Linked DNA regions of Homo sapiens: region 2 is linked to region 1. The links come from fine-mapping of genetic effects on gene expression. A gene starts in region 1. The other region holds a variant in brackets. All regions are shown on one strand. Distances are from middle to middle.

What was found. PIP is the estimated chance that this variant, and not a neighbour inherited with it, causes the effect.
Region 2: its variant is the best candidate, but not a certain one, in a credible set for the expression of SLC22A25 in nucleus accumbens (GTEx, PIP 0.53).

Annotation. Positions count from the first base shown.
Region 1 is chr11:63,241,116-63,245,506 of GRCh38, forward strand. It overlaps SLC22A25 (solute carrier family 22 member 25), which reads right to left and starts at 2,484. Exons shown (of 12, transcript NM_199352.6): 1 at 2,319-2,484. It also overlaps the pseudogene CCND2P1.
Region 2 is chr11:63,429,538-63,433,928 of GRCh38, forward strand. No RefSeq gene overlaps it. Among named protein-coding and RNA genes, the nearest start is that of PLAAT5, 59 kb to the right of the region's middle. The variant G/C (reference allele first, on the strand shown) is at 2,066.

The DNA.
Region 1 (4,391 bases):
GAAATGTGTGTGCAAGGGGTTTACTAAGGCATGCTCTTATGTAAGTGCATGATGAAATATGATTGATTGGAGCTAATTGTTGAACCATAATATAGTTGCAAAACAGGCCTGAAGCCATTCCATGGGGAGATGTGAACCTGGAATGGCCCTTCAGAAAAGTCTGGAATTGAGCCACAGAAGGAACCCTGTTTGCTTGCATTGGAGAGGCTAATGACAGAGCCTGGTGGACTTCAACTCTGTCATTATGGATATTTGATTGGTTAGTGCTTCTCTCCTTCTTCCACGGTGTTCCATGTAATAGAAAGACCTTCACACCTCATGCCCACTCCACAGGTGCATCCCCATGCCTCTTTCCCAGACCTCTTTCCTTCCTATTATCCAATCTTTCTGTTTATAGGTCCAGTCCATCAAACAAAGTCATCTGGAGCTCCTAGTCTCTGTATTCTTACCTCAGGATTATCTTATTTATACACAAAGTAGATAATCAGTTGTATTACTTGAAGCTCAATGCATTGAGAGGGTTAACAGTCATCAGTGACTATCAAGGCCCCCAGAGGGAAGCATTACTTCACTAAGTTTTACTTTTCCCATATACCAAGTCATTCTATATCTGAACCTAGAAAGGCTATTTTCTTCTGTCATCTGATCACAACAGACACCCAAGCACCTGAGGGTATGCACTGAGGTGAGGCACAACATTGGTGGGCAACAGGGTCTCTGAACCACCAGACTGTGCAGCTTAAATGGCCTTTTGTTAAGTACTGACAATAAACTGAGATTGTAGCCCAGACAAAAAGCTCTCTAAAGATGGTTAAGGATATTACATTCAAACTCTGTCAAACAGAAATGAGGTTTCTAAGAATCTTAATGTCATTACCTCTCAGCAGAATATCATAGTCCATCTATATGAATGGAGATATTTTGGGTGTGGCTTTTGTCTAATGGAGCAGATTCCAGTAAGAGTCACAAGAGACCAAGAAAAAGTTTAATAGAATTACATGGGCAGAAACACTGCTAGTTGGGACAGAAACTAACAGAGAATGTACAAAATGAAATGGTGCTATTTACCTCCCCCTCCACCCCTGGATTCTACTTTCAGAGAGCAGGTGGAAAAAACCACACACCGAAAACCACATACTAACTTTAATATAAAAGGAAGGATGTCTCTTAGGCAGAACCCAGAGACCAGATGTCAGAACCAACAACTGTATAGAATAACTCATTGGCAGGAGTAGGATAGCGTCTTTATCAAGGGGCACTCGATATTTGCCCAGCTGGATTTCAGAACTGCTATACAGCAATAACACTTGCATGACTCCTGTTTTCCCATCTAAGAATAGTGTCATATTTAGTAGACTTGTTTAATATCGTTGCTTCCTTGGCATGCCTTTTTAGGTCTGACATAAGTTATTTGAAACTCAGCTATACCCCATCACTTCAGCCTAGTTAAAACTTCCTCTTCCTGTGTGATTGTGATATAGCCAGCTGGAGGGTGGGTCTGCCTCTCCCAGTCCACTGACTCAAATGTTAATCTCCTTTGGCAACACCCTCACAGACACACCCAGGTACAATACTTTGTGCATCCTTCAATCTGATCAAGTTGACACTCAATATTAACCCTCATAGACTGTGATCCCTATGTTGCTGCCTTCCCTCGTTTCTATTGCTCTTTGGCCCCAACCCAAATAAGGTTCCTTGGGACACACTAAAGAAGGAGGTGGAGTTCGAAGGGGAGGAGAGATGTGAGCGAGGCAGGCAGGGAAGCTCTGCTCGCCCACTGCCCAATCCTCACCTCTCTTCTCCTCCACCTTCTGTCTCTGCCCTCACCTCTCCTCTGAAAACCCCCTATTGAGCCAAAGGAAGGAGATGAGGGGAATGCTTTTGCCTTCCCCCTCCAAAACAAAAACAAAAACAAACACACTTTTCCAGTCCAGAGAAAGCAGGGGAGTGAGGGGTCACAGAGCTGGCCATGCAGCTGCTGGGCTGTGAGGTAGACCCGGTCCTCAGAGCCACGAGGGACTGCAACCTACTCCAAGTTGACCGTGTCCTGAAGAACCTGCTTGCTATCAAGAAGCGCTACCTTCAGTAATGCTCCTACTTCAAGTGTGTGCAGAAGGCCATCCAGCCGTACATGCACAGGATGGTGGCCACTTCTGATGGTGGCCATTTGATTGGTGGCCACTTCTGATGGTGGCCAACATGATTGAACCATTTGGGATGGAAAAGCACCTTTACTCTCAGCCACCTGTTAACTAATGCTGGAGGTCTGTGAGGAACAGAAGTGTGAAGAAAAGGTTTTCCCTCTGGCCACGATTTACCTGGACTGTTTCTTCGCCAGGATCCCAACTTCAAAGTCCCATCTGCAACTCCTGGGTGCTGTCTGCATGTTCCTGGCCTCCAGGCTCAAAGAGTCCAGCCCACTGACTGCCAAAAAGCTGTGCATTTATACCGACAACTCCATCAAGCCTCAGGAGCTGCTGGAGTGGGAACTGGTGGTGTTGGGAAAGTTGAAGTGGAACCTGGCAGCTGTCACGCCTCATGACTTCATTTAGTACATCTTGCACAAGCTGCCCCAGCAGCGGGAGAAGCTGTCTCCAATCTGCAAGCAAGTCCAGAACTTCAATGCTCTGTATGCAATGTACCCGCCATCAATGGTTGCAACTGGAAGTGTAGGAGCAGCTATCTGTGGACTTCAGCAACATGAGGAAGTGAGCTCACTCCCTTGCAATGCCCTGACTGAGCTGCTGGCAAAGATCACCAACACAGATGTGGATTGTCTCAAAAGCCAACCGGGAGCATATTGAGGTGGTCTTCCTCAACAGCCTGCAGCAGTGCCATCAGGACCAGCAGGACAGATCCAAGTCAGAGGATGAACTGGGCCAAGCCAGCACCCCTATAGACCTGTGAGATATCGACCTGTGAGGATGGCAGTCCAGCTGAGAGGCGCATTCATAATCTGCTGTCTCCTTCTTTCTGGTTATGTTTTGTTCTTTGTATCTTAGGGCGAAACTTAAAAAAAAAAACCTCTGCCCCCACATAGTTCGTGTTTAAAGATCTTTTAGAAGTGACAGAAAATAGTCCTATAAAAACAGAATAAGAAAAAGCCTTTGGTGCTTATTTGAAGTACAGCATAAGGGAATCCCTCGTATATTCGAACAGTTATTGTTTGATTATGTAAAAGTAATGGTAAAATGCTTGCAGGAAAACCTGCAGGGTAGTTAGAGAATATGTATGTCTGCAATATGGAAACAAATTAGAGGAGACTTTTTTTTTTCATGTTGTGAGCTAGCACATACACCCCCTTGTAGTATAATTTCAAGGAACTGTGTATGCCATTTATGGCATGATTAGATTATAAAGCAATGAACTCAAGAAGGAATTGGAAATAAGGAAGGACTTGATGGGGAAGGAGTACAAAACAATCTCTCAACATGATTGAACCATTTGGGACGGAGAAGCACCTTTACTCTCAGCCACCTGTTACTAAGTCAGAAGTGTGGTTGGATCTCTATGTTGGGTACTCTTGCTGTCTACATTAGCTGCTACCTAAATAAGATGTTTTATTTTGCCAGTTGGACACAGGTGATTGGCTTCTGGATTTCTTGTCCTGTGACATCTTGCTTCTTCCAAATGCAGTTCATTGCGGACACCACAGTATTGCTATCTAATGGGGGAAATGTAGCTATGGGCTGTAACCAAAACTCACATGAAATGGAGGCAGATGGAGACCTGGGGTGGCATCCAGAATGGAATCTTTTCTCTTATTGTATTAAAAAGGGTAACGTGACCTTGGCATTCCTTCTTAGGAAAAACTAATTTTTGGTGCTGATTGGCATGTCTGCTCCACAGGTTAGCATTGTTCTAAACCATTCCATTCGAAAAGCACTTTGAAAAATTTTTCCCTAGCAATAGATGGCATGGTTTATGCAAGTCATGCTGAATACTCCTCCCCTCTTCTCTCTTGCCCCCTCCCTCCCTGCCTCCATCTGGGTTACTCTTCACCTCTGGTATCTGACATTCTTGGGTACACATTTCTGGTGTTCCTACCAGGACACAAGAGACACCTCTTTCTGCTGACATCCCCATCACAACATTCCTCAGAAAAGCCTAAAAACAAAGATCTGTTACCATTCTGATGACACAGAGGATCTTCATTTTATTTCTTTAAATACCTAATTTTACATCTTTATACTTCTTTGGACATGGAAAGTAAAGTTATTGCGGGTGCAAAGACAGATGGCTGAACATCAGGGGGTGGCATTTTGTTTCCTTTTCCTTTTTTGTTTTTGGTAATTTTATTGCAAAGTTGTATTCAGTGTACATGAATTTTTTTTCCTCTTCTGTTCTTTTTTCTTTTTTATTGTTATTTTTTTATTTATTTATTTTATTAT
Region 2 (4,391 bases), 190 kb after region 1:
CAGCCAGAGAGAAAAGTCAGGTTACCCACAAAGGGAAGCCCATCAGACTAACAGCAGATCTCTCAGCAGAAACCCTACAAGCCAGAAGAGAGTGGGGGCTAATATTCAACATTATTAAAGAAAAAATTTTTAACCCAGAATTTCATATCCAGCCAACTAAGCTTCATAAGTGAAGGAGAAATAAAATCCTTTACAAACAAGCAAGTGCTGAGGGATTTTGTCACCATCAGGTGTGCCTTAAAGAGCTCCTGAAGGAAGCACTAAATATGGAAAGGAAAAAGTGGTACCAGCCACTGCAAAAACAAACCAAAATGTAAAGACCATCGACACTATGAAGAAACCGCATCAACTAATGGGGAAAATAACCTGCTAGCACCATAATGACAGGATCAAATTCACACATAACAATATTAGCATTAAAGGTAAGTGGGCTAAATGCCCCAATTAATAGGCACAGATGGGCAAACTGGATGAAGAGTCAAGACTCATCAGTGTGCTGTATTCAGGAGACCCATCTCAAGTGCAAAGACACACTTATGCTCAAAATAAAGGGATGGAGAAATATTTACCAAGCAAATGGAAAGAAAAAAAAACAGAGTTTACAATCCTAGTCTCTGATAAAACAGACTTTATAATACAGGAGCACGCAGATTCATAAAGCAAGTTCTTAGAGACCTACAAAGAGACTTAGACTCCCACACAATAATAGTGGGAGACTTTAATACCCCACTGTCAATATTAGACAGACCAATGAGACAGAAAATTAACAAGGATATTCAGCACTTGAACTCAGCTCTGAACCAGGTGGGCCTAATAAACATCTACAGAACTCTCCACCTCAAATAAACAGAATATACATTCTTCTCAGCACCACATAGCACTTATTCTAAAATCGACCACATAGTGGTTCCAAGATGGCCGAATAGGAACAGCTCCAGTCTACAGCTCCCAGCATGAGTGACGCAGAAGACAGGTGATTTCTGTATTTCCAACTGAGGTACCAGGTTCATCTCACTGGGGTGTGTCAGACAGTGGGTGCAGGACAGTGGGTGCAGCCCACCAAGCAAGAGCCAAGGCAGGGTGAGGCATCACCTCCCCTGGGAAGTGCAAGGGGTAAGGGAACTCACTTTCCTAGCCAAGGGAAGCCATGACAGACAGCACCTGGAAAATTGGGTCACTACCACCCTAATAGTGCACTTTTCCAATGGTCTTAGCAAACAGCACACCAGGAAAATATATCTCGTGCCTGGCTCAGAGGGTCCCATGCCCACAGAGCCTCACTCATTACTAGCACAGCAGTCTGAGATCTAACTACAAGGTGGCAGTGAGGCTGGGGGGAGGGGTGACTGCCATTGCTGAGGCTTGAGTAGGTAAACAAAGCGGCCAAGAATCTCAAACTGGGTGGAGCCCACCACAGCTCAAGAAGACCTGACTGCCTCTGTAGACTCCACCTCTGGGGGCAGGGCATAGCTGAACAAAAGGAAGCAGAAACCTCTGCATATTTAAATGTCCCTGTCTGACAGCTTTGAAGACAGTACTGATTTTCCCAGCATGGAGTTTGAGATCTGAGAATGGACAGACTGCCTCCTCAAGTGGGTCCCTGACCCCCAAGTAGCCTAATTGGGAGGCACTCCCTGGCAAACAGGGTCTGGAGTGGACCTCCAGCAAACTCCAACAGACCTGCAGCTGAGGGTTCTGACTGTTAGAAGGAAAACAAACAGAAAGGACATCCACACCAAAACCCCATCTGTATGTCACCATCATCAAAGACCAAAAGTAGATAAAGCCACAAAGATGGGGAAAAGACAGAGCAGAAAAACTGGAAACTCTAAAAATCAGAGCACCTCTCCCCCTCCAAAGGAAGGCAGCTCCTTGCCAGCAACAGAACAAAGCTGGATGGAGAGTGACTTTGACAAGTTGAGAGAAGAAAGCTTCAGATGATCAACCTTCTCCGAGCTAAAGGGGGAAGTTTGATCCCATTGCAAACAAGATAAAAACCTTGAAAAAAGATTAGGTGAATGGCTGACTGAATAACCAGCATAGAGAAGTCCCTAAACGACCTGAC[G/C]GAGCTGAAAACCATGGCTCAAGAACTATGTGATGAATGTGCAAGCTTCAGTAACTGATTCGATCAACTGGAAGAAAGGGTATCAGTGATTGAAGATCAAACGAATGAAATGAAGTGAGAAAAGGAGTTTAGAGAAAAAAGAGTAAAAAGAAATGAACAAAGCCTCCAAGAAATATGGGACTATGTGAAAAGACCAAATCTACATCTGATTGGTGTACCTGAAAGTGACAAGGAGAATGGAACCAAGTTGGAAAACACTCTGCAGGATATTATCCAGGGGAACTTGCCCAACCTAGCAAGGCAGGCCAACATTCAAATTCAGGAAATACAGAGAACACCACAAAGATACTCCTTGAGAACAGCAACTCCAAGACACATAATTTTCAGATTCAACAAAGTTAAAATGAAGGAAAAAATGTTAAGGGCAGCCAGAGAGAAAGGTTGGGTTACCATCAAAGGGAAGCCCATCAGAGTAACAGTGGATCTCTCAACAGAAACTCTACAAGCCAGAAGAGAGTGGGGGCAAATATTCAACATTCTTAAAGAAAAGAATTTTCAACCCAGAATTGCATATCCAGCCAAACTAAGCTTCATAAGTGAAGGAGAAATAAAATACTTTACAGACAAGCAAATGCTGAGAGATTTTGTCACTACCAGGCCTGCCCTAAAAGAGCTCCTGATGGAAGCACTAAACATGGAAAGGAACAATCGGTACCAGCCACTGCAAAAACATGCCAAAATGTAAAGACCATCAATGCCAGGAAGAAGCTGCATCAACTAACAAGCAAAATAACCAGCTAACATCATAATGACAGGATCAAATTCACACACAACAATATTAACTTTAAATGTAAGTGGGCTAAATGCTCCAATTAAAAGACACAGAGTGGCAAATTGGATAAAAATTCAAGACCCATCAGTGTGCTGTACTCAGGAGACCCATCTCACATGCAGAGACACACACAGGCTCAAAATAAAGGAATGGAGGAAGATCTACCAAGCAAATGGAAAACAAAAAAAGGCAGGGGTTGCAATCCTAGTCTCTGATAAAACAGACTTTAAACCAACAAAGATCAAAGAGACAAAGAAGGCCATTACATAATGGTAAAGGGATCAATTCAACAAGAAGAGCTAACTATCCTAAATATATATGCACCCAATACAGGAGCACCCAGATTCATAAAGCAAGTCCTTAGAGACTTACAAAGAGACTTAGAGTCCCACACAATACTAATGGGAGACTTCAACACCCCACTATCAACATTAGACAGATCAATGAGACAGATAGTTAACAAGGATATTCAGGAATTGAACTCAGCTCTGCACCAAGCAGACCTAATAGACATCTACAGAACCCTCCACCCCAAATCAACAGAAAATACATTCTTCTCAGCACCACATCACACTTATTCCAAAACTGACCGCATAGTTGGAACTAAAACACTCCTCAGCAAATGTAAAAGAGCAGAAATTATAACAAACTCTTTCTCAGACCACAGTGCAATCAAACTAGAACTCAGGATTAATAAATTCACGCAAAACCACTCAACTACATGGAAACTGAACAACCTGCTCCTGAATGACTACTGGGTACATAACGAAATGAAGGCAGAAATAAAGATGTTCTTTGAAACCAACGAGAACAAAGACACAACATACCAGAATCTCTGGGACACATTTAAAGCAGTGTGTAGAGGGAAATTTATAACATTAAATGTGCACAAGAAAAAGAAGGAAAGATCTAAAATTGACACCCTAACATCACAATTAAAAGAACTAGAGAAGCAAGAGCAAACACATTCAAAAGCTAGCAGAAGGCAAGAAATAACTAAGATCAGAGCAGAACTGAAGGAGATAGAGACACAAAAAACCCTTCAAAGAATCAATGAATCCAGGAGCTGGTTTTTTGAAAAGATCAACAAAATTGATAGACTACGAGCAAAACTAATAAAGAAGAAAAGAGAGAAGACTCAAATAGATGCAGTAAAAAATTATAAAGGAGATATCACCACCGATCCCACAGAAATACAAACTATCATCAGAGAATACTATAAACACCTCTACACAGATAAACTAGAAAATCTAGAAGAAATGGATAAATTCCTTGACACATACACCCTCCCAAGACTAAACCAGGAAGAATTTGAATCCCTGAATAGATCAATAACAGCCTCTGAAATTGAGGCAATAATTAATAGCCTACCAACCAAAAAAAGTCCAGGACCAGATGGATTCACAGCTGAATTCTACCAGAGGTACAAGGAGGAGCTTGTACCACTCCTTCTGAAACTATTCCAATCAAAAGAAAAAGAGGGAGTCCTCCCTA